Homo sapiens: one gene and its partners. The protein of the gene in region 7 interacts with the protein of the main gene of each other region in a pairwise test. Each region holds a gene or a part of one and is shown on either strand. Other genes may lie near its edges.

The links.
Region 1: the proteins of UBE2U (region 7) and RNFT1 interact in a two-hybrid assay, tested with the Homo sapiens proteins (one large-scale study listed by BioGRID and IntAct).
Region 2: the proteins of UBE2U (region 7) and TRIM35 interact in a two-hybrid assay, tested with the Homo sapiens proteins (one large-scale study listed by BioGRID and IntAct).
Region 3: the proteins of UBE2U (region 7) and DZIP3 interact in a two-hybrid assay, tested with the Homo sapiens proteins (one large-scale study listed by BioGRID and IntAct).
Region 4: the proteins of UBE2U (region 7) and RNF170 interact in a two-hybrid assay, tested with the Homo sapiens proteins (one large-scale study listed by BioGRID and IntAct).
Region 5: the proteins of UBE2U (region 7) and RNF14 interact in a two-hybrid assay, tested with the Homo sapiens proteins (one large-scale study listed by BioGRID and IntAct).
Region 6: the proteins of UBE2U (region 7) and RNF10 interact in a two-hybrid assay, tested with the Homo sapiens proteins (one large-scale study listed by BioGRID and IntAct).

What each region holds. Positions count from the first base shown.
Region 1 is NC_000017.11:59,951,740-59,954,740, forward strand, and holds the end of RNFT1 (E3 ubiquitin-protein ligase RNFT1), read right to left. Parts: intron 2,408-3,001; coding exon 2,306-2,407; intron 1,373-2,305; coding exon 1,238-1,372; 3' UTR 501-1,237; downstream 1-500. UniProt on the Homo sapiens protein: E3 ubiquitin-protein ligase that acts in the endoplasmic reticulum (ER)-associated degradation (ERAD) pathway, which targets misfolded proteins that accumulate in the endoplasmic reticulum (ER) for ubiquitination and subsequent proteasome-mediated degradation.
Region 2 is NC_000008.11:27,290,773-27,294,272, forward strand, and holds part of TRIM35 (E3 ubiquitin-protein ligase TRIM35), read right to left. Parts: coding exon 3,308-3,500; intron 1-3,307. UniProt on the Homo sapiens protein: E3 ubiquitin-protein ligase that participates in multiple biological processes including cell death, glucose metabolism, and in particular, the innate immune response.
Region 3 is NC_000003.12:108,641,722-108,645,221, reverse strand, and holds part of DZIP3 (E3 ubiquitin-protein ligase DZIP3), read right to left. Parts: intron 2,785-3,500; coding exon 2,708-2,784; intron 1,059-2,707; coding exon 441-1,058; intron 1-440. UniProt on the Homo sapiens protein: E3 Ubiquitin ligase proteins mediate ubiquitination and subsequent proteasomal degradation of target proteins.
Region 4 is NC_000008.11:42,862,106-42,865,605, forward strand, and holds part of RNF170 (E3 ubiquitin-protein ligase RNF170), read right to left. Parts: intron 3,385-3,500; coding exon 3,311-3,384; intron 2,589-3,310; coding exon of another isoform or gene 2,546-2,588; exon of another isoform or gene 2,508-2,545; intron 1-2,507. UniProt on the Homo sapiens protein: E3 ubiquitin-protein ligase that plays an essential role in stimulus-induced inositol 1,4,5-trisphosphate receptor type 1 (ITPR1) ubiquitination and degradation via the endoplasmic reticulum-associated degradation (ERAD) pathway.
Region 5 is NC_000005.10:141,967,931-141,971,904, reverse strand, and holds the start of RNF14 (E3 ubiquitin-protein ligase RNF14), read right to left. Parts: upstream 2,801-3,974; 5' UTR 2,738-2,800; exon of another isoform or gene 2,125-2,737; intron 1,202-2,124; 5' UTR 1,028-1,201; intron 1-1,027. UniProt on the Homo sapiens protein: E3 ubiquitin-protein ligase that plays a key role in the RNF14-RNF25 translation quality control pathway, a pathway that takes place when a ribosome has stalled during translation, and which promotes ubiquitination and degradation of translation factors on stalled ribosomes.
Region 6 is NC_000012.12:120,558,356-120,561,855, reverse strand, and holds part of RNF10 (E3 ubiquitin-protein ligase RNF10), read right to left. Parts: intron 1,131-3,500; coding exon 970-1,130; intron 1-969. UniProt on the Homo sapiens protein: E3 ubiquitin-protein ligase that catalyzes monoubiquitination of 40S ribosomal proteins RPS2/us5 and RPS3/us3 in response to ribosome stalling.
Region 7 is NC_000001.11:64,213,623-64,217,122, reverse strand, and holds part of UBE2U (ubiquitin-conjugating enzyme E2 U), read right to left. Parts: intron 2,309-3,500; coding exon 2,191-2,308; intron 1,687-2,190; exon of another isoform or gene 1,598-1,686; intron 1-1,597. UniProt on the Homo sapiens protein: Catalyzes the covalent attachment of ubiquitin to other proteins.

The DNA of each region.
Region 1 (3,001 bases), on a different chromosome or scaffold from region 7:
TTCTTTCTACCACCTTTTCCTCGACTACAAACTGATAGATGTACTCTAAACTTGGATATAAGCACTAGCAGCCCTTCAGACATGTTTTAGATTTCAGATTCCTCCTTAGAGGTAACAAGGGGAGAAAGTGCTTCATTCTCTTTTCTAGCACCCTGCACAAATACCTAGAGGCGAACAAACCACACTATCAAAACCTCATGACCACCTCTCAGTGCGAGCTTCAATCTTCCAATTGATGGTGATTCAAGCATAAAATTCCAAAACTTTTATGGAGAAGACTAATTATAAGGGCAATTTTTTATAAGATTTTAGGGCATCTGTCTTGAAACTTTTTTCTTTTAAATAGAGATGGGATGTTGCCCAGGCTGGTCTTGAACTCCTGGGTTCAAGCAGTCCTCCTGCCTCTGCCTCCCAAAGTGCTGGGATTACAGGTGTGAGCCACCATGCCTGGCCATTTGTCTTGTTTTCTATACTATTCAAATCATCAAGTAAGCCAGCTGTTTATAATCCACATGAATTATTTTAATAGTTACTTCGAGATACTCCATGGTACTATACAAAAAGCATGATCATGAACATTAAAGCTGATGGCAGGAAGAATTTATGACGTCCAGAGACAAAATGAATTTAAATCATTTATTTTCACTTATTACTAATCTTACTACAGAGAATAATACAATACTATAATGTATCATCCTCAGTAAATTAATCTTCACTTAGAAAATGTTACTGATAAAATACAACATTTAGAATTTTCATTTAAAAATACAAATTTTATGAAAATATTAAGAATTTTTAGGATGGGAATTATAAAAGTCAATGCTGAACAAAATTCTACTTTTAGATAGTATGTATCTTAAAATATTATGAAAAATATTCTTTATTCTGAAAACAATGTCAGGAAAGAATACCTGAGTTCTCTAAAACCACTAGTTCTAATTTCAAATTGCTGTTTTGGTAACATAAAGAAAACACATTTACAATTTAACACTGCAGTTACCTGTCAAATAATTAGAATAGAATAAATGTTGCATATACATTAGGTTGAACATTATATATATTTTAAAACACAGGGTGGTTTCATTTAATCTTTTGGTGAATTGGATCATAAGTCCTACATTCTAAAACCATCTGGAAACATTTTTCTGGTAGCCCTGAAAATCCATTCTGATGCCTTATCAGTAGTCATTATGACCAAATGACATTAGTATTTTGTGGCCTTGATAGTTTATACAACTTAATATATTTGAAGGTGTGATGAAGTGGCTCCATCCTTCCATTTGTTTATATGGTCTGAAATCACAGTTCTGCAGAGTGGACATGTTTTCTCTCTGTTAAACCATAAGGTCATGCACTCTTCACAAAATATATGCTGTAATGGAATTAAGAATTAGATTTGATATTTGATAATCATTTTAAATCCATCACATTGTAGGGAATGAAAGGGATTCTTTTTTTTTTTTTTTTGAGATGGAGACTGAAGTCTTGCTCTGTCACCCAGGCCGGAGTGCAATGGCACCATCTCGGCTCACTGCAACCTCCGCCCCCGACTGGTTCAAGTGATTCTCCTGCCTCAGCCTCCCAAGTTGCCGGGATTACAGGTGACCACCACCACCATGCCCAGCTAGTTTTTTTATTTTTAGTAGAGACAGGGTTTCACCATGTTGGTCAGGCTGGTCTTGAACTCCTGACCTCAGGTGATCCACCCACCTCAGCCTCCCAAAGTTCTGGGATTACAGGCGTGAGCCACTGTGTCCAGCCTGAAAGGGATTTTGAAGAGCACTAATCCCCTCATTTTACAATTGTGAAAATGGAGAACGTATGAGACATTCAAGAAGACAAAGAGCAGTATGATTGGTAGAGCCACTAGTGTTCTGGCTGTACCATCCATTTAACCATAAAAGCTATCCTTAGGTGACACCTTTAAGATTAAGTATGATAACTGCTTAAGGTCTTTGAGTTACTAGTAACTGCCATAAAGTATAGGAAAGGGCCACAATCCAGTAACAAATGTCAGTATTGTTCTACATGGCTAGTATCCAATTATAAAATAGCCTGTTTTTTAATCACTTTGGTATTCAATCTGCCAGTTGAATTATTTTTTCCCCTTCATACGCTCCTCTGCATAAAAATTATCAGAACATAAGGGACAAAACTTAGCCAATCCACTAGTATGTACCCTGAATGCTACCTTCCACTAAACACTAGATTTTTTTTTTTTTGCCTTACAGCAAACATAAATTTGACTTTTGCAAGTCACAGAGAACTGTTGTATTTAGGTTTTTAAATTTAAAAATGTAATTACCTGACAAATGAGAAGAATTGGCTTCTGAAATTCAGCTTGACATATTGAACAAATATCATCCACATCTGAACACTGTCTCTTGCTGGCAGCCACTCCATAACTCTATGAAGATAGTAAGTTCTGTTCATCTACAAATTTCTTTCTTTCCTGTTCCTCAAATTACATAAGTAATGCTGTACTTCTCAAATCTCCCTGGAACCAGGCATTTGAAAAACTTCCCAAAGGATACAAACATCTCAAAGCTGAGCCATATACAGAACCACCTCTTGAGTGCACCAAAATGAAATCATTAAATAATACATAATAGGATTTTGAAAGATTGTTAGATCTACTAGCTTTACAAAGGATGATAGTGCTTCAAATTCAACATAACTGGCTTAAGAGACTAAGCAATCTGAAATGTAACTATTATAAAATCTATAGCCATGTATTATTTGACCCAGGACTGCCAAATTGAGCTTATTACCTGCAGCAGTGGTTCATAAAGTCAATCCAGCCAGAGGTTGGCTGGTTGAATGTAACTCATGTGGAAAGCTTGCTTTAAAAATAGATTTCTCTGTTCCACACAATATCAATTCACTAGGACCAGACATATTGGGATGTGACCCAGTAATCTATTATTTGAAAGGTCTCCAAGTGAGTGCAATATGAAGAAGACTTAGGGACCACTGAAGAATTTTCTGCCACTAGGTCTAA
Region 2 (3,500 bases), on a different chromosome or scaffold from region 7:
CACACAAAATTTCAAGGAACCCAGAATAGCCAAAACCATCTTGAAAAAGAAGAACATTGGAAGACTCATAATCTCCAATTTCAAGACTTACTACAAATCAACAGTAATCAAGATAGTATGGTACTAATATAAAAACAGGCACTGAGATCAATGGAATAGAATTGAAAGTCCAGAAATAAACCCTCATATTTACCATCAATCAATTATTTACAATAGTGCCAAGATGATTTAATGGAGGAATAGTCTTTCCAACAAATGGTACTGGGAAAACTGTATGTTGACATGCAAAAAAAAAAAAAAAAAAAAAGTGAAGTTGGACTAACCCTTACTATACCATATACAAAAAAAAAACTCAAAATGCATCAAAGACCTACATGAAGAGCTAAAACCGATAAAAAACTTGTATCTAGACTATATAAAGAACTCTTACAACTCAACAATAAAAAGACAACCCACATTAAAAATGGGCAAAGGATGTGAATAGACATTTGTCCAAGGAAGATCTACTAATGATCAAAAAGCCCATGAAAAGATGTTCCAAGTCATTAGCCATCAGGGATGTGATGACATGCAATACACAAGGAGATACCACTTCACACCTACAAGGATGGTTATAATTTTTAAAAAACAAATTTTGGCAAAAATATGGAGAAACTGGAATCCACATACACTCCTGATGGGAATATAAAATGATACAGTTGCTCTGAATAATGGCCTAGCAGTTCTTCCAATAGTTAAACCTAGAGTTACCATTTGATCCAGCAAATCTACTCCCAGACATATTTCCAAGAAAAATGAAAACATGTCCACATAAAAATTGCTACCTGAATGTTTATAGTCATATTATTCATAATAGCCAAAATAGAAACAACCCAAATGACCACTGTCTTAGTTCATTTTGTGTTGCTGTAACAAAATACCACAGACTGGGTAATTTATAAACAATAGTTTATTTCACTCGTGGTTCTGAAGCTGGAAAGTCCAAGAGCATGGCACCAGCATCTGATGAGAGCCCTCATGCTGTGTCATCCCATGGCAGAAGGAAGAAGGGCAAGAGACTACACATAAGACCAAGAGCAAGAGAGCAAGAGGGGCCCAAACTCACTTTTATAACAAGCCCACTCTCTCAATAACTAACCCACTCTGCCAGTAACAACATTAACCCATTCATGAGGGCTCTCATGACCCAATCACTTCTTATTAGGCTCCACCACCCAACACTGTTGCATTGGGGATTAAGTTTGTAACACATAAATTTTGGGGAACATATTTAAACCACAGCAACCACCAATTGATAAATCAATCAATAAAATATAATATAGCCATGTGCAACGTAACGATGTTTCAGTCAACAAGGAACCACATATATGACTATGGTATGGTCCCATGAGATTATATCACTGTTTTTTACTGTACTTTTTCTATGTTTAGATATACAAATACTTAACAGTGGGCTCCAGTTGCCTACAGTATTCAGTGCAGCAACGTGCTGTACAGGTTTGTAGCCTAGGAGCAAAAGGCTATTCCATATAATCTAGGTGTGCAGTAGGCTACACCATGTAGGCTTCTGTAAGCACACTCCATGACACTTGCATAATGAAGAAACTGCCTAATAATACATTTCTCAGAACATATCCCCATCACTAAGAAGTGCATGATTATATATCTATGCCATGGAATATTATTCAGCCATAAAAAAGAATGAAGTACTGATAGATGCTACAACATGAATGATGTTTCAAAATATGCTGACTGAAAGAAGGCAGTCACAAAAGGTTACATGTTATATAATTCCATGCATTTGAAATGTCTACAACAGGTAAATCCATATAGATAGTATGTAGACTAGTGGTTGCCAGGGGCTGCTAATTCTAGTAATTACCACTCTGTTAGACTCAATTTCGGTAGCAGTTTTTATGTGGGAGGAGGAACTGGGGAGTGACAGCTAAAGCAGGGCTGCTTTTGGAGGCATGAAATGTTCTAAAATTGTCGTGATGGTTGCACAACTCTGTATATACTAAAAATCACTGAGTGGTACATTTTAAATGGGTGAATTGTTTAGCATGTAAATTATATCTCAATAAAGTTGTTAATAAAAAATAAAAAAGAGTCACAAACCAAAATCATCCCTGAAAGCACTCTGAGTACTGGGCAGACAATACTCCCAATTCCCTAAACAGAATCCTCGAGACACACAGCTTTTAGATCCCACAAAATGATTTTTCTTTTTCTTTTTTTTTTTTCTTCATTTTTCTTTTTAGAGACAGCTCTGAACACAGAATGATTTCATAATCAGGGACATTTTTGAGACAGGAGACTTCATGGTTCCAGGCTTTGAGTGAGGTGGAGAACTCCTAAAGGACCCACCCAGGAGATGACACTGCCTGAACAGATAACTGTCCCTGTCGCCTCCCACTCCACTCTACAGCGACACCCCTTCCACAGCAGTCAGCTGTTTTCCAGGTACAAGAGACACCTCACCACCCTGGCCAGTTTACAGACCAGCTTTCGAGCCCAGAAATTTCCCTGTAGGAAATTTGTAAGGACCACTGGCTCATGGGGAGGAAATAAATCAATAAAAGGAAAAAAAAATGAATAATACTGTTTTTTTAAAGAGAGAATGGAATCATCCTTTTCTTAAGAAGACAGAAAGCCAAGGCATTATATTTAAATAAAAAATTTAAATAATTGAATGATTTTAAAAGAATTCATCTTATTAAAAGGTAGAGACCGGAAAAAAAATGAGAGTAAGAGAGAGGGCAAGAGAAAGGAAGAAAGAAGAGACAGGAGCTGGGCACAGTGGTGCGCCAGTAGTCCAACTACCTGGGAGGCCAAGGTGGAAGCATCACTTGAGGCCAGGGATTCAAGACCAGCTTGGGCAACATAGTGAGACCCCCCTCACCCCTACCTGACTGGTAAAAAATGAAAAAAATTAGTTGGGCATGGTGGCTCGTGCCTGTAGTCCCAGCTACTCAGGAGGCTAAGGAGAGAGGATCACTTGAGCCCATGAGTTTGAGGTTACACTGAGCTATAATCACCCACTGTACTCCAGCCTGGGTGATACAGCAAGACCCTGTCTCTAAAAAAAAGAAGAGCGAGGAAGAAATAACAGGGTTTCAAGGAACTCCGCCCTGATAAGTCTTTTTAGTTTCATGACACAAGCAGAGCAGGTTACTTGTGAGCTCCTCCAGGCCAGTACCCAGGAAGCTCCAGGAAGATGACGTTGGCCAGGGCTGGTGGGCTATGGCTCCCAGCTGGTCCTGGAACATGTGGCCCTGTCACTGAATCCAGACGCTGAGCTCCTTACCATGAGAAAAGAAACGTCGTCCTCCTTCATCTCCATCTGCAGCCGCTCGATCTCATGTGCCAGCACCTCCGTCTCCTCTGTGAGCTGCTTCATCTTCTCGTCGGCCAGAAGTTGCTTCTGCCTTGTCTCCTCGGCCATGGCATCCAGAATGGCCTGCTCCTCCACTCTCAAGAACTCGCGAAGCTTATCAAAC
Region 3 (3,500 bases), on a different chromosome or scaffold from region 7:
TCTTTCTGAAAAATGCAGACTCCTTAATGTGACAAAAAAATCCTCTTGAATGTACTCTATGAACTCTCCCCTACTTTAATCTCAATGAAGCCAACATTTTTTAGTTGCCTGCAGTATATTTTTATGTTTCTATACCTTTATTTTTGTTTCCCTCTGAAACATTCTTCTCAGTCTGCTTCACCTGGCTAACTTCTGCACACCATTAATAGTTCTTTAACTATGATACTCTCCAGAAAGCTTTTTTGGACTTCTTTAGCCTAGGATTTCCCATGGTATTCTGGAAACATCTCTAGCACTATAATTTCTATTACCTTCCTGATGAGTCCATTTTCCCAAAACCATGAGCTCACTGAATCTCTTGCCCTTTGCACTGTGCCTGGCACAGAGCAGACATTCAATCAATGGAAGTTTATTGGCTGAAGTAAATAATCATTTAGTACCTTGTTGATAGCAGGATAACATCCTCTGTATGATTTCTGGTACTGGTATGCCTAGGTAGACAGATAGCTGATGGTAATCAAGGGAGATATTCTCAATGGGATTCTCCTTCACTTTGTCAATATCCTCTTGCATCATCCCAAGGCGCAGAAGAATATCTGAAACTTTTTTCCAAATTGAATTGAACTGTGACTCAGTGAGACCATTCATCAAAATCTCACTAAGGAGGATATCCCTGTATTTGCACAGTCTCAGGATGTCTGCAGATTTAGAGATGTCAGAAGATGGCGGTTCCATATTCCATCCTTTTTTGGGTGCAGGGAACACATTTAAATGTTTTATAAGAGCTAACAGGAGGCATAAGTCAAACTGTTTGGATTGCGGTAACTCCTTGTTAGGAGGATAAAGCAGATGCCATGATCCACCCAAAGGATGATTGGTCCAAAGATGGTTGTAGTAGGATTCCAGCACATTCTTGTGTATAAGAAGCTCTTTTTTCAAAAGAGGAGGTGGCATAGCCTCATCAAATATTTGTCGAACAATGTCAGTACCAGAAATAATAATTATATGAAGCAGATGATAGAAATAATTATAATCAAGCTTGAAGATAGGCATTTCATCTGAAAATAAATTTTGAGAAGTCAAGACATTCCACATTAATGCTCATTTTCTATTTGGTCTCTCACATTGTATCCTAAGCTCCTGTAGGATAAAAACTATTCCAAAAGAATGAAGGATAGTACAGTGCTTTGCCACAGCCAGTGCTCAATTAGCATGCTGCTTTCTGCCTGTCAAAAAACCTAAACAAAAACAACATGTTCCCAAGCAAAAGTAATAACAAAGACTAATCACCACAGAAGTCTTTCAGTCATCCAAGGTTTTGTTCAAGTAAATGACCTTTAGCAACAACATGGCATCACAGTATTAGGTCTTTAAAAATTCTGAAATTTGCCAAGAATGCTAATTGTCAATGTCTAACTATACTTTACTTAAACAATTATACTTTATCCTAATCAGCACTGCCCAATGGAACGTCATGTGATAAAATGTTTTATATTTGCACTAATACTCACTGAGCATTGGAAATGCGGTTTGGGTGACTAAGGAACTGAATTTTAAATTTAATTTTAATTAATTTAAATTTAAGTAGCCACATACAGCTAGGGACTGCTATACTAGATAGCTCAGATCTATATCAAGAAATGCCAAAAGATCTAGCTCCTTGCTACTCAAAGGGTAGCCCAGAGACCAGCAGCATCAAGCATCCACCTGAAAGCCTGTTAGGAAAGCACAGTCTCAGGCCCCACTCTAGACCTACTGAAATCTGCCTTTTAACAAAATTGCCGGATATTTCAAATATATGTATAATGCTTGAGAAACTGTGATCTAATAAACCTCATCTTCTCACCCCCTCAAAAAAAGATAAGTAGGTATTTCATCAATAACATGGAATAAGGCATGAAACTGAACTATTTGGTATTTTCCTGTTTTAACAGTGCTTTCAAAGGAGAAAAGTCGGCTGAAGTGAATTAGAAAGTACTAATAATTTAGTATATAATGGCATTTGGTGTTATATGGATATCAAAATATGTGTTTGTCACAAAATGCAGCCTTATTATTTTATCCTTCAAGATTCTATGTTTCAAGAGATTTATTAAATTAACGTTTTTGCTTGAAATACTTGATATACATTGTGGAGGCAAGTTAAAAAGCTAATGACACAGGGAGCTTTCTTTGGGTTACCAAATAAAAAGTTGGCTGGACTGCCACCAAACTATTCTTCTATGGGCCCAGGGTCCCTTAATTAAGGCCTCCAGGTTCTGGGCAGGACATTTCCTAGCACACTCCTAAGAAGCTGGCAGCTTAGTTTAGATTACTTAGCCTCAAAACTTGGCCTCAAACTCAAAATGTTCATTCCTTTCATGTAAGGGTACTCTAATGCTTGCTCTATTAAGAAGGAATGCAGCAAGGGAAGGAACAGTTGGTAGAAAACCTCTGCTGGAACACAATCCCACGGTATAGTCACAGCTATGCACCAGACCTAGCATGCCTCTCTATAGGATGTCAAGGTAATGTGAGATCCATAGATGTGCTGATCTTCCTGTCTGTGATTTCCAGCCTACACCAAGCGCTGCTTGCTGGTATAAACCCAAGCTCAGTGAATGACAAACACAGTAAAGACGTGGTTGTTAATGGCATGAAAGTTGACAGAGAAGTCAAAAATTTTAACATACTTTTCAACAGAAGGCATATAAAAATAAAATAATACCTTTTGTATTAAATTTTAAACTGATCTTCGGTCTTATATCAGTATCAGTTATTTTCAGAGATATCAACTTTCTATAACTGCAAAAGGAAAAAAATTAAGTTATAGTGGAAATAAAATAATACCAAAGTCAGTCAAGATTTCTAGTATGAGCATGGCTAAGTGAGTATTTTCATCTTCTCCTAGAAATAATTCAAGAAGGAGAAAAAATAATGAACAAATAGAGCTCACCAACAATGAAAACCCTACACTGTCACTTTCATTGGAATTATCAAGTAAGCAGTATTGCCAGATTTCATACTAAAACTATCACATTACAAACTTCCTTGCAAAAAGGCTGTGTGGTAGCAGAAAAAAAAGGAAAGAAAGCTTTGCATTGTAAGACAAAAAAAGCAAGCAAGCAAACAAAAAAATAGCAAATCTGGAAGTCCTCCCTGGCCCTCTCTTCACCATATAATATTTTTGGCAATAACTATTCCAAGAAACCCCAACTCATTTAACACCTACTGATTAAAAACAATAAAGATGCTAGTAGAACATCAATACAAATAATTAGAAAAATAAAAAATAAAGTAGCAAAATGTATTAACTAGACTAAGCACTAGGTAAATGCTGCCGTTAAACAGATGGCTTGGCTTTGAAATGAACCACGGAAAACAAAACAAAAAAATATTGGACAACAACGCTACAATGTAAGCTTAATGAGGAAAGGGATTTTGGTGGTGGTTGTTATTGTTAACTGATTCTATCTCCAGTACCACTATAACACTGTTAGTTGCACATTACATTGAAAAAA
Region 4 (3,500 bases), on a different chromosome or scaffold from region 7:
GGTAAATTCCTTAGTTCTCTATTTGGGCTAACAGATATTTGAAGATAAAAGAAGGATGAGGAAACATTCAGGAGGAAAGTGACATAAAATATATAACTGTCACTTTAAGACAGAAAAATTATGGTTTTCTTTTTCAGTATTAAAATAATGATTGGTTATTCTTACTGGTATTTGAAAGATCTTTGAATGCTACCAACCATAATATAAAGATTATGTTATTGCAGGGACCAGCTCTCAAACACCAATTCCTACTATAATAAAAAAAAGAAATTTTTGATATTGTCATATAACATAATACATTTAACCCTGCTTCCTTCATGGTTGTGGTAACAAGGATGTACAAATGTCCCAGGACCATACTGGGGTAATCTGACGGTGACAGTACCTTGAAAAATAAATACACTTTAGGACGTAGCACCCTTATAGAAAATGGTCACTAATGATTGTATGATGACATAAAAACGGGAAGGAGTGGTGGCCGATTTAGTTTTAAATCATTTAGTTGTTGTTTTGTCCTTCCTCAGTTCAGCTGTAAAACCAAGGCTTCCCACTGTTTAGATGCTTTCCAAACAGCTAAAAGAAGGCGTGACTAAGCACAGAAGGTGGTGAGAACAGCAGGTGCAGCCATCACTTCCTTCACAAATTTGTTAATAAAAATGCATTCTTTCAATACACATTAATGGAACACCTATGGCGGGCCAGGCACTCTGCTTAGTGCTAGGTATGCCAGAAAAATGAAGTCAAAAGCCTGCTCCAGGGTGACTACAACACCCACAAGGAAAGGGGAGGAAGACCTGGCCGACAGCCTTACATGGTCCTGGGGCAGGTGCAAGAATGCTGCTGTGAGAGCGAGGATCTCTTCTGCCTGGGGTGGTCAGAAAGCCTGATACTGAGCCAAACCTGGAAATGGTGGTAGGACTGTGGCTGGTGTGCACGCATTCAAGGGGAGAAGTGGTGAATGTGTTCCAGTCAGAGGCGGCAGCCTGTGTATTGCTATTTCCATGACCATTTACTGAAGGGGCTACTGAAAACAGGAGGTAGAACAAGCATTTGCCATCTGTCTTGCCTCCAGGATGAATTACTCTTATCTTAGGGAACCAAGACCTATTATATTAAGACAACTTTATCTCGACCTTCTGAGCCTCTAGTCAATTTATGGATGGTACACAGGATACCACTGGCTACTGTACACATGTCCTATGAAAAGCCATGGGCAGAACCAAGAAGAGGGAGGGCCTGGAACTATTTTTTTAATGTAAGACCTACTCCCTAGTTTGGATGTTGCTGACCGAGAGCAAAAGATGCCAAGAAGTAGTACGGGCAAATAAGCTTCAATTTAAAAAAAAAATTTTTTTTTGAGACAGTCTCGCTCTGTCTCCAGGCTGGAATGCAGTGACACCACCTCGGCTCACTGCAACCTCCACCTCCCAGGTTCAAGTGATTTTTCTGCCTCAGCCTCCCAAGTAGCTGGGACTACAGGTGTGCGCCACCATGCGCAGCTAATTTTTGTATATTTAGTACAGACTGGGTTTCACCATGTTGGCCAAGATGGTCTTGATCTCTTGACCTTGTGATCTGCCCGCCTCAGCCTCCCAAAGTGCTAGGATTACAGGCGTGAGCCATCACGCCCGGCCATAAGCTTCAATGTTGACTGCCTTGTGTCACGCATCAAATCAGCCAGAGAGGCATATAGAAACATCAGTTTTCCTCCTGACCATGTGGCCACAAGTAAAATATGAAAGAGGCAGAATTTGGGAATGTATAAGCAAGAATGGTAAGAAAATGACTTGGACCTCCCTCTTTGCACCAAAATAAGAGGGCAGTTGAGGGGAAACAGACAGCTACAATAAAGGCTGAAGGAGAGAGAGAGAGAGAGTGTGTGTGTGTGTGTGTGTGTGTGTGTGTGTGAACATTCCACCCACGGGTAAGTGGAGGAATACTTTTTTTTTTTTTAGTGTGTGTGAACATTCCACCCATGGGTAAGTGGAGGAATACTTTTTTTTTTAGTGATGTAATCTCGTTCTATTGCCCAAGCTGGAGTGCAGTCCCATGATCATAGCTCATTGCAGCCTCAACCTCCTGAGCTCAAGCAATCCCCCCACCTCAGCCTCCCAAGTAGCTGGGACTACAGGTATACACCACCACACCTGGCTAATTTCATTTTTTAAATTTTTTTGTAGAGATGGAATCTCATTTTGTTGCCCAAGCTGGTATCGAACTCCCAGCTTCAAGTGATCCTCCTGCCTTGGCCTCCCAAAGTGCTGGGATTACAGGCATGAGCTACTGCGCCCACCCTGTATTTTTATTTTAAATGAAAAATAAATATAAAGGAAATTATGAAAAACAGTGTACAACTGACACAATGTCCTATTTTGTCATACTTAAAAACTGAGAATATTGGTTTCTCAGAATTGTTCAGTATTTCATTTCTCCAGTTTATCAAAGAAATGGAGAGAATTTGGCATGTCTCATCTGCAGTGACATTTCAGTCTCACGTTCATGCTTACTTACTGCCTCCCTCCTCAGGTGGCTTCGATGCTAACTGTCATGGTCTAAGCTGTTCTGGACAATGCAATGTGGCCATGTCTCTAAAAGGAATGAAACATTAAAAAAAAAAATCATTATATACCATTTAAAGCTATCTGGGTCCTCACTGGAAAAAGACAGATTAAATATACATTGAGAAGGAAAAAAATTTTTTTTCAAAACAAGTATATATGCATATATAGAGGATATATGCTCAAGCCTGATTGTCTTTCACTACAACTGTAGGATTTCAAATAGGATTCCCTTTTGTAGTGGTATCTCAGTGACAGTTTTAAAAAAATAATCGTGGGCCGGGTACAGTTTAAAAAAAAAAAAAATCGTGGGCTGGGCGTGGTATCTCATGCCTGTAATCCCAGCACCTTTGGAGGCTGAGGCAGGAGGATTGCTTGCGTTCAGGAGTTTCAGACCAGCCTGGGCAATGCAGGGAGACCTCATCTTTACTAAAAATAAAAAAATTAGCCAGGCATGGTGGCACATGCCTATAGTCCCAGCTACTCAGGAGGCTAAGGTGGAAGGATTGCTTGGGCCCAGGAGGTCGAGGCTGCAGGAAGCTACGATCATGCCACTGCACTGCAAGACCTTTTTTCAAAAAAAATAAAAAAAAATAAAAATAATAATAATAATATATGGTGACATCAAAGAAGATTTGGATAAATGAAGTTCTGCTAAAAAGACAATAATAATTCCAAATGTAGATACAAAAACTATAAAAATGTACAAAATAAACTAGCATAAATGATACTTTCTGCACACAAAACATTACCGTTTGTCTACAGATTGGACAACTGATTGCCCCAAGCCATGAACCATATCGCCAGTAAGCAATAATGCAGGCACCTAATAGACAAAACAAAACAAACACATAACCCATTAATATTGATGTTTTAAAGTCCACATATCCTCAGAAAGATTCAACTATTTGAAATATTTTAACAGTACCACGTTATTTAAAA
Region 5 (3,974 bases), on a different chromosome or scaffold from region 7:
AGACCAAGGCAGGCAGATCACTTGAGGCCAAGAGTTCAAGACTAGCCTGGCCAACACAGCAAAACCCCATCTCTACTAAAAATAAAAAAATTAGCCGGGCATTGTGGTACACGCATGTAATCCCAGCTACTCGGTGGCTGAGGCACGAGACTAGAGAATCACTAGAATCCAGGAGGCAGAGGTTGCAGTGAGCTGAGATTGCACCACTGCATTCCAGCCTGGGTGACAGAGACAGACTCTGTCTCCAAAAAAAAAAAAAAAAAAAAAAGGAAAGAAAGAAAGAAGAAAGAAAGGAAAGAAAGAAAGAAAGAAAGAAAGAAAGAAAGAAAGAAAGAAAGAAAAAGAAATTAGCTACAATTAAAGTATGAACTGGCTGGATATGGTGGCTCATGCCCGTAATCCCAGCACTTTGGGAGGCCAAGGCAGGAGGATCACTTGAGGCCAGCAGTTTGAGATCAGCCTTGGCAACATAGCAAGATCCTGTCTCTATAAAAAATTAGCCAGGTGTGGTGGTGTGTGCCTGTAGTCCCAGCTACTCAGGAGACTGTGGCAGGAGGATCGCTTGAGCCTTGGATGCTGAGGCTGCAGTGAGCCGTGTTTGCACCACTGCACTCCAGCCTGGGGGACAGAGCAAGACCTTGTCTCAAAAAATAAAGTATGAATCAATGTTTTTTAAAATAGCATCAACTGAAAGATACAGCAATTTCAGATAATTTAAATGTGAAAAAAATATGCAATGAGAATTTACAAAAATCATTTTAATAAAACAAAACTACCAGTCAATTAAAATATTGAACTACAATTGCATTTGCAAATATCCTCCCTCACAACTAAAATATTTTTAATTAAAATGTACATAAGTAAAAAGTTAGGATTTTTTACATTTTAAAAGGTCATACTATGAAATTAAAAATGATTTCATTTTCAAAAAACACTTTTTTTCTAGGAGATGTTAGTTCATGGCTCTGCTTAAGCTGCATCCCTATCTAAGACACAATTACATGTTCTACTTGAGGTCAGTTAGTACCTGTTAATAACAATCAGAAGAAAAGGATATTAACACCGCAGTCTGTATTTCAGCTCAGAGTGGAGTTCATGCAAATCCCATTTATTCTCTAACTGGTGGAGCTGAGACTGCTGAAGCTGGGTAAGAGGCCAAGATGTGGAACTCATACTACATATATTATGAAAATCCTGCCATCTGCAGAAAAGAAATACAAAAGATGGTGTTAGGACCCTCTCCAAATTAAAATTCTGAATTTCCATGATCACTGCTTAAGTCAAACATATCCTAACATATAGCCAATCCTAATCTACAAGTGCATGTTACTCTCCTAGGGCAGGCTAACTGAGCCATGTGGTTAAAGGAGTATTTGCATGTCCCCAGCAATGACTGAGGACTTTTTATCTGTCTGCCCTCAGCTATGGGAGGAGCTAAGGAGGAACACCAAGGTCATATGAAAGTACAGGACACCATGCCCCATAACAAACAATCTCTTCAGTTTGTTTTTTGTTTTGTTTTTTTCTCCTTTCCTCTTCTGCTTCTTGTATTCCTTCATTTGCCACTCCCCTCCAGTTTTTCCTCTCTTGTTCATGAATTAAGCCTGCCAGTGGCACTCAAGGTTAATTTTGGTAACAGAAAAATACTTAAACAAAACAAGAGTACACAAACACAAACTTTTAAGTTTTATTCTAAATGCTTTAGAGCTAGGCTTCTTCACTGGGGTGAGGGGAAAAGGGAGTGTGGTCTATAGATGGGCTACGGAGAATCCTATCAACACCCTAAAATTATATGCAAAAATACTATATACAAAACCATAATTAAAAACCAGATTCTCGGATGTGTAACTCCCAAATGAGATAAGAATGAGATTCAGAATCAATTTACATTAATTGAGCACCTACTATGTACTGTATTAGGTCCTTTCACATTGTCTTATTTTACTAGGTGGGAGTATATGGTGCTAATTGAATTAAGCTTTTTGTTTCTTCCTGTTAAAACATTTGCAAATGGGATGAGAGATTCATTCATGCAGTTTATGGTTTTAGGTTAGTGTTCTCCATCTGACTGCACATTAGAATCTTCTGAGGAGCTGTTTTTTAAAATCTCAATACCCAGGCCACACCCTAGAACAATTAATTCAGGCCTCAGTAGTTTTCCAAGTTCTCCAGGTGATTCCAATATGCAGCCAGGGCTAAGAACTTCTACTCCAAGCAGTTTCAACAGTTCCTCATGACCTACCCTACAAGATTTCAGCTTGTGAAGCTGTCACTTGGAATCCAGTACCTCAATTCAGGTTGCTAACCCCCATTTCCTTCTCACTCTATCCATTTGGTCTTCGGGTGTCCTAGTCTGGGTTCAGCTCGCCACTAGGCGTGCGGCGTCGTTTGGGCGACTGCCCCAAAACAGGGGCAGGCCCAACGCTAGCTATCCGCCCCAACGCTGGGATCAGAGGGCGCAATGCGGATGTGTGAGCTGCTGGCCAGCCTGGGGCGTCCCGAAGGAGCAGGGCCCACACCTTCCCCTTCCTCCTCAGCGTCCCGAAGGGAGTCCCGGCCAGCCGAGCTGCGGACGCCCGGTCCCGGATTTGAGGGACTGAGGCCCAGTGTACAGTCCCAGCCCGGTCCCCTTCTCTGCCTCGCGCGCCCAGAGAGCTATCCCCACCGTACCTTCCGGCCGCCCGGCAGTGCCGAACCCCAAAGTTCCGCCCTCCGCCCTTGCCTGGGGCCCACTCACCGCCGCCAGCCGACCAGGCCTAGAGACGCCCTGCTCAACCGGCGCGCCGCCTCTTCCGTTCTCGGGAGCTGTCAGCTGAGCCAGGCGGATCCCGCTGGCGCGACCGCCGGCATAGGGAGGACTCTGCGCAGCCGCCGTGGTCGCCCCTGCCTCTCGGGCGCCTCCCGCAGGCCCAAGGCGGCGCTGCCGGCGCGACCACCGTCACCCCCACTTACTGCGAGCCCTGTGCTCACAGGAGGCTCTTTTCAGTAGTTCTGATGGGGCCCGAGAATTCGAATTTTTACCAATCTCTAGAGGGGATCATGAGGCAGTGGTCTACCTAGGGCAGAGACTCTCACAACAATCCCAGACCTGCTTCTCCAAGTGGACTAAGCAAGCCTACTTCCTCCCGTTTACCTTCTCAGAAATGCTGCCGGTCTTTCTGGCACTCCACTGTGGAAGCACGCATTCATCGCTCATGTTATAACTGTAACACCGACCGCATTTATCGAGTAGTTAGGATGCTTCAAGCAGTGTGATAAATGCTCTACGTAAATTTTCTATCTTCACTGTAATCTTATGATTTAGCTACCATTTGTTATTCTCACTTTACAAATAAGGAAATTGAGACTTAGGTGCAAGAACTTACCAAGGGTCACATGATTATCGTCAGGCTAAGCAGGAATTAAAATTATACACTTCCTTCCTCACACCATATGCAAAAATTAACTAAATATGGATCAACGACCTAAATGTAAGAACTAAAACTATAAAACCCTTAGAAGGCCGGGTGCGGTGGCTCACGCCTGTAATCCTAGCACTTTGGGAAGCCGAGGCGGGTGGATCACGAGGTCAGGAGATCGAGACCAGCCTGACCAACATGGTGAAACCCCGTCTCTACTAAAAATACAAAAAATAAGCCGGGCATGGTGGCGGGCACCTGTAGTCCCAGCTACTAGGGAGGCTGAGGCAGGAGAATCATTTGAACCCAGGAGACAGAGGTTACAGTGAGTCACTGCACTCCAGCCTAGGTAACAGCGAGACTCCGTCTCAAAAAAAAAAAAAAAAAAGTCAAACACAAAAAGCCATATATTGTTTTTAATTTATATGAAATGTCCAGAATAGGCAAATCCATAGAGACAAAAAGTAGTTTAGTGGTTGCCAGAAACTAAGGCAGGAGGGAATGGGAAGTGACTGCTAATAGATACCGCTAATAGATATGGTGTTTCTTGGGTGATGAAAATATTGTGGAATTAGA
Region 6 (3,500 bases), on a different chromosome or scaffold from region 7:
CAGCTCTAATTCTATGTAGCCTTTCTTATGCCTGTAATGGCATTTGAACAAATACGGCTGCAACGTATTATAGAAAGAAAGCAAAAGTTAAATACACAGGACTCTACCCAAGGAGCCCTTGGGAGTCAGGGAGAAGGGAATTCAAATACCAGCTGCATCCCTTACTAGCAAATTACCCAACCCAGGATTCAGTTTCCTCATCCATGAAAGGGGATAGTTCTATCTACCACACTAGAAGCTTAAGTGAGATAAATGTGTATAGCACAAGTCCTATCAAATGCTGATCACTCAATAAATATGGGCTTCTATTGCTCTAAGCTAGATCAGTGGTTCCAGGAGTGTGGTCTGGGGATGAGCAGCCATCAGAATCACCCTAGAACTTGTTATATGCAAATTACTGAGCCTACTGAGCTTAACCTATGCAATCAATATCTCAAAGTGGGACCTAACAACCAGTGGTTGTGATGCTTCAAGAATCTCTGTTGTGGAAGATAAAAGACCCAGGGAATTCTGTTCTTGTGTAATTCTTGCCGTTTCAGGTACTCCTAAGGCATACTGGGCAGGCCATAATACTTTCTCCACAATGTCTTTCAAAACACCTCTAGAATAGAATCTTAAGTATTTTCCCAGAAAACAAAGAACTCTAACTTGCTTTAAGAACATAGCTAATCTAAAAAACTCCACTGTCACAATTAGTTATAAAATCATTTTGACTTGCTCCTTTCAGCTCTAGAAAGAGCTTTAAAAGCCCTAGGTTAAACCTTCTCTACTGTCATCAAACAAAGCCCAAAACAAATTGGCTTTTTTAGCCATTCTCTGCTTATTGTCTTAAATGTGGAATGGAACTAACTTAATCCCCAGCGTCCATCATCTCACCCCCGACAGAGTGAAAAGGTTTAGCATTTCTGGTTTTCACCACAGAACGCCGAGAAAGTGAAAAGGTTTAGCATCTCCAATGCATCCTCTCACCTTGAGCTCCTGGATAGCTGCCTCAATAAAGCAGGACTCGGGAGTGTGCTTCTCCTCTGCCAGCTGCTGCTCTAGTGCTACTTTCTCCTCCAGAACTACCCGGTGCAGCACCTGCTCCTTAGAGGCCAGCAGCAACTTGGAGTACTGGCTGTGCTGTTCATCTATAAGAATGCCAGCAAGATCAAAGAAATGCAACATTCAAAGCTCACGATGGTGTAGCTAAATAGGAATTTTCAAATACAGCCTTTTCTCTGGGGTGAAAATGGGGTAATTTAGCATGATTTCCTAGAAAATAATTTAACAATGGTCTTAAAATAAGGTCTGTAGCTCTGCTCTTGATATAAGAAATCTAAGAAACCCAGAGATGTAGTCAAAACTTTAGTCACGCGTTTATTGTTACAGCATTGTATGTAATATCAGAAAAGCTCAAACCAGCCAGGCACCATGGCTCACACCTGTAATCCCAGCACTTTGGGAGGTCAAGGCGGGTGGATCACTTGAGATCAAGAGTTCGAGACCAGCCTGACCAACATGGTGAAACCCCGTCTCTACTAAAGATACAAAAAAGTTAGTCGGGCCTGGTAGGGCATGCCTGTAATCCCAGCTACTTGGGAGGCTGAGGCAGGAGAATCGCTTGAACCCAGGAGGCAGAGGTCGCAGTGAGCCAAGATCATGCCACTGCATTCCAGCTTGGGCAACAAAAGCGAAACTCTGTCTCAAAAAAAAAAAAAACAAAAAAAACCACACACAGAAAAAGAAAAGCTCAAACCAACCAGTAAAACCAACAATAAAGAATAAAGAAATGGTGGACCAGCGCAGTGGCTCACACCTATAATCCCAGTACTTTGAGAGGCCAAGACAGGAAGATTGCTTGAGTTTAGAAGTTTAAGACCAAGCCAGCTGGGTGTGGTGGCTCACGTTCAGCACTTTGGGAGGCTGAGGCAGGTGGATCACCTGAAGTTAGGAGTTCGAAACCAGCCTGGCCAACATAGAGATACCCTGTTTCTATTAAAAATACAAAAAATTAGCTGGGCGTGGTGACGGGCGCCTATAATCCCAGCTACTAGGGAGGCTGGAGTAAGAAAATCGCTTGAACCCAGGAGGCAGAGGTTTCAGTGAGCCAAGATCGCACCATTGCACTCCAGCCTGGGCAACAAGTGCAAAACTCTGCCTCAAAAAATAAAATTAAAAAAAAATAACACCAGGCGGAGTACGGTGGCTCACACCTGTAATCCCAGCACTTTGGGAGGCTGAGGTAGGCGGATCACAAGATCAAGAGATTGAGACCATGCTGGCCAACATGGTGAAACCCCGTCTCTACTAAAAATACAAAAACTAGCCAGGTGTGGTGGTGCGTGCCTGTAATCTCAGCTACTCAGGACGCTGAGGCAGGAGAATCTCTTGAACCTGGGAGGCGGAGATTGCAGTGAGCCGGGATTGCACCACTGCATTCCAGCCTGGCAACAGAGTGAGACTCCATCTCAAAACAAAAACAAAAACAAAAAAAGCACAACACACACACACAAAAAAAACAAAAATTAGCCGGGCGTGGTGGCAGGTGCCTGAAATGCCAGCTACTCAGGAAGCTGAGGAAGGAAAATCGTTTGAACCGAGGAGGTGGAGGTTGCAGTGAGCCGAGATCACACCATTGCACTCCAGCCTGGGAAACACAGCAAGACTCCGTCTCAAAAAAAAAAAAAAAAAAAAAAAGAGTAGTTCAAGACCAGCCTATCAACATAGCAAGACCTCATCTCTGCTAAAAATAAAAATAAAAAATTAACTATACCTGCATGCCCAGTTAATTTTTTAAAATAAAAAAAATAATTTAAAATTAAAAGTTAATTTAATTAATTAAATTAATTTTAATTATTTTAATGAATTTAATTAATTAAAAGTAATTATTGCCACTGCACTCCAGCCCAGGCGACAAAGTGAGATTCCATCTCAAATAAAGGGTTAATGACATGATGGTATGTTCATTAACGAAAATTCTGTGGACACTAAAAGTGGTTTTCTTGGCCGGTCACAGTGGCTCACGCCTGTAATCCCAGCACTTTGGGAGGTAAGGCGGGCAGATCACTTGAGCTCGGGAGTTCGAGACTAGCCTGCCAACATGGTGAAACCCCGTCTCTACTAAAAATACAAAAAAAATCAGCCAGGCATGGTGGCGGGCGCCTGTAGTCCCAGCTACTCGGGAGGCTGAGGCACGAGAATCGCTCAAACCCGGGAGGCAGAGGTTGCAGTGAGCCAAGATCATGCCACTGCACTCCAGCCTGGGTGACAGAGCCAGACTCTGTCTCAAAAAAAAATATATATATACATATTATATTATATATCTATAAATAAAATAAAAATAAAATTTATCAGTCTTTTACAGCATCTATCATTTCAGCCTGGTTCAAAAATCCACCCATATCTGAGGATTTTTTTTTAATTAATACACATTTTTAATGTTTTAAGTTGCTAAACATTTAAACAGTCAAAATCACTAGGAAAAAAATATTACACACACACATTTACCACCCAAATGA
Region 7 (3,500 bases):
ATTTCAAACAATTCTTCCTCATGTTTGGCCAACTGGGACCTGGATGGACTTTACCATTAAGAATGGCACAACTATAGAGTCATTTGCTTTTAGGAAAGATCAGCTGGGCACCCAACTGGCTAGATAATCGTTTGTTCAAACTGGTACACTGCAAGTGAAAGGAGGTACTGGGAATAATTATACCAGGACTTTCCCAGGCAGTCTGGGGTATGTGAGTCCTCTAAGAAAGGAAAAGGGGCCAGGCCACAAGGAAAGGAGGCTGTCAGGAAATGGGAAGGTCATCAGACCTCCACACTGGGTTTGAGCTTAGAGCTTGGTCTTCTTGTCAATACACTGAGGCAAAGACCTAGCTATTCAGGGTAGGCAAACATAACAAATGTTGGGGAAAAGTTTGGGTAATGAGCGACATTTACATGTCTGCATATCACATACCAGGCTTAGACTTAGGACAATAAAATTAATTCCAGACAACTGATCACGGAGTAAAGTCCCTGATACATTTAAGGTATGTACTGACACGAGGCAGGGCCAAGCCTGCGTATGTGAACTTCAGTTCTGCTACAACCCAGCAGGCCCGGGAAAGTATGACTGACGTGTAACTTCAGTGTTTGTCCTATGTTAGTTTTCTGAAGCAACCCAGAAGAAATCTTTTTCCATAGGAAATCCCTTCGAATATTTGAAAACAGCTTTTACAACTGCCCTTTATCTTTTCTTCTGTTGGCTAAATATATACAGTTTCTTCAGCCTTTAGAAATGTGAGGTTCCAAGTGGAGCCTACTGGTATTCCAGATGAAAGCCCACCAAGCCAGAGAAGGGTAAAATGAGTATATAACACATACTTAGAAGAAGGGAATTTTCTATTACTGCTTCACCTTAAGCTTGTGATCAAATAGCTCCCCCAAGAACTTTGTCGTAGAATAAAGTTCTATGGTACTGGAAAAGATGCTTGATCAACACCATTTGATTTGTATCAGACCCAAAAACCCTGTGGAGGAGGAGCAATTGAACTTGGTCACAATTATACAGACCTAGCTAATGGACTGGGAGTCCTGGAAGGGAAACAGAAAAAGAAGCAATGTAAATCTGAGAGAAAAAGTACTATAAGAAATCAAGGCCTGTTGATTGGGAAGGTAATGATACCAGCTACTATGCAAGGTTGCTGTGTGCTACCAGAAGAAGGTGGGGCAGGATATAAAGGAAATAACTATGTCAGTAGGAGCCCAGCTCTCAGCTGTGGGAAACCCTTCTGTGCACAAGAAGCCAGAAGCAGTGCTCTACTACCTGGAGAGAAAGAGAGAGAGAGCGCACAGGGGCAATGGAGGCAATGGAGTTAGGAGTCATAACGAGGCTGCTGGCAGGATACCAAGGGTATCAGGAAAACACTGCTCAGTGGAGCAGAAAGACTGAAGAGCTTCAGGCTCTATTTCCACATGGATTCTTAGAAGGAATTCCTGGGGAGGGAACTCTCCGGAAAAAAATCATTGACATCTTGCTAATCAAGAAGAAAAGTGGTACAAATCAGTAAGATCTGGAGTACTGCAGGTGAAGTCTGGGAAATGTCCATTACAGATTGAAGAGTCAAAATTAGATGTCATACCTTTATGATGGGTGGACTAGTTTCATTTGGCACCATCCATGCATATGACCATAATATTTAAAGATACGGAGCTTGAGATCTTTGATGATCTTTAAAAAAGGATCACACTGATTGGTTTCACAAAGAGTTACAGTAGGAGAGATCTTAATACCATTCATTACTGAAAATGGATACAGAAAATATTTCAAATATTCCCTTATATAACAGTTATTTCCTAGATCACTATGCTATAAATGTTTAAAGTATAATTGATAATTGCCAAATAACAAAAAGTAGGTACTTCTTTTTTTTTTTGAGACAGAGTTTCACTCTCGTTGCCCGGGCTAGAGTGCAATGGCATGATCTCGGCTCACCGCAACTTCTGCCTCCCAGGTTCAAGTGATTCTCCTGCCTCAGGCTCCCGAGTAGGTGGGATTACTGGCATGTGCCACTACGCCCAGCTAATTCTGTATTTTAGTAGAGACAGGGTTTCTCCATGTTGGTCAGGCTGGTCTCGAACTCCGGACCTCAGATGATCCACCCACCTGAGCCTCCCAAAGTGTTGGGATTACAGGCGTGAGCCACTGCACCTAACAAAAGTAGATACTTCTTACTTTGTAATGGCCTGTTGAAAAGTCTTAGAATTGTTCTGTACAGAGATTCATCTTTAACCAGTATTCTGGCTGCTTCCAAATTCACTGGATTCTCTAGCACTGGATTAGAAAGCATAACCTATAGGAAAACACAGACAACATATAATTTCAGAAGTAAACTTTTTTTAGAGCAAAACGACAAACCAATATATACAACTTTCAATAAGCATGTATTAAATGCTTACTATGTATGGATCTGGAAATAGATTAAAAAATAACATGAGACATAGTCTGTACTCTCAAGAAACCTAACCTTAGGCTCATGAATGTACGGTATAAAACTGTGATAGATCAAAAAGCAAGTTACAAGTTCCTTTCTGTAACTTGTTCCTTCCTAGCATATACATTTACATTGAATTTAAATTAAGATTATAAAAATTTTAGTTGATGGTGGTTAGTGTATTTAAAATTCAAAATATTTTAACCAACATTTCAAGTACACTTCCCTTGAATAACAGTGTGATAATTGAAAATGTATCTAATTTGTTATCAAGAAAGAAGTAGTTAGTCATTATGGTCTCAACTTGTATTGCCCATCACTGTAGGCACAGTCACAGGTGGTTATTTACATTTAAAATAATTAAAATTAAATAAAATTAAAAATTCAGCTCCCTAGTCACAGTGGTAACATTTCAAGTGCTCAGTAGCCACATATGACTAGTAGGTACTGTATTGAACGGTGAGATATATTGGACATTTCCATCAATGCAGAAAGTGCTACTGCGCAGCACTGACCTTCAAAGGAATACTGAATAGCTATTAAAATATTGATTATAACCATATGGAAGTTACTTGAGAGACAATGTTAAGTGAAAAAGAAACAGGCTGTATAGTTTACATACTCACGTGCCACATAACAATGTTTCACTCAACAACAGACGGCATATATCATGGTGGTCCCATAAGATAATAATACCAAATTTTTACTGTACTTTTTCTATATTTAGATACACAAATATTTACCATTGTGTTACAATGGCCTATAGTGTTTAGTACAGTAACATGTTGTATAGGTTTGTAGCCTAGGAGCAACAGGCTATAACATAGCCTTCGTATGTATTAAGCTATACCATCTTGGTTTGTGTAAGTACGCTCCATGATTTTCAAACAACGATGAAATGTGTAACAACTCATTTCTCAGAATGTATCCTTGTTGCTAAGCACATGGCAATATACATACCATAATAGCAATAATGTAAAAATTCAGGTTCATTCATTCATTCATTTTATTTAATATCTACCAAATGTCAGCATTGTCTTTGGTATGCTCC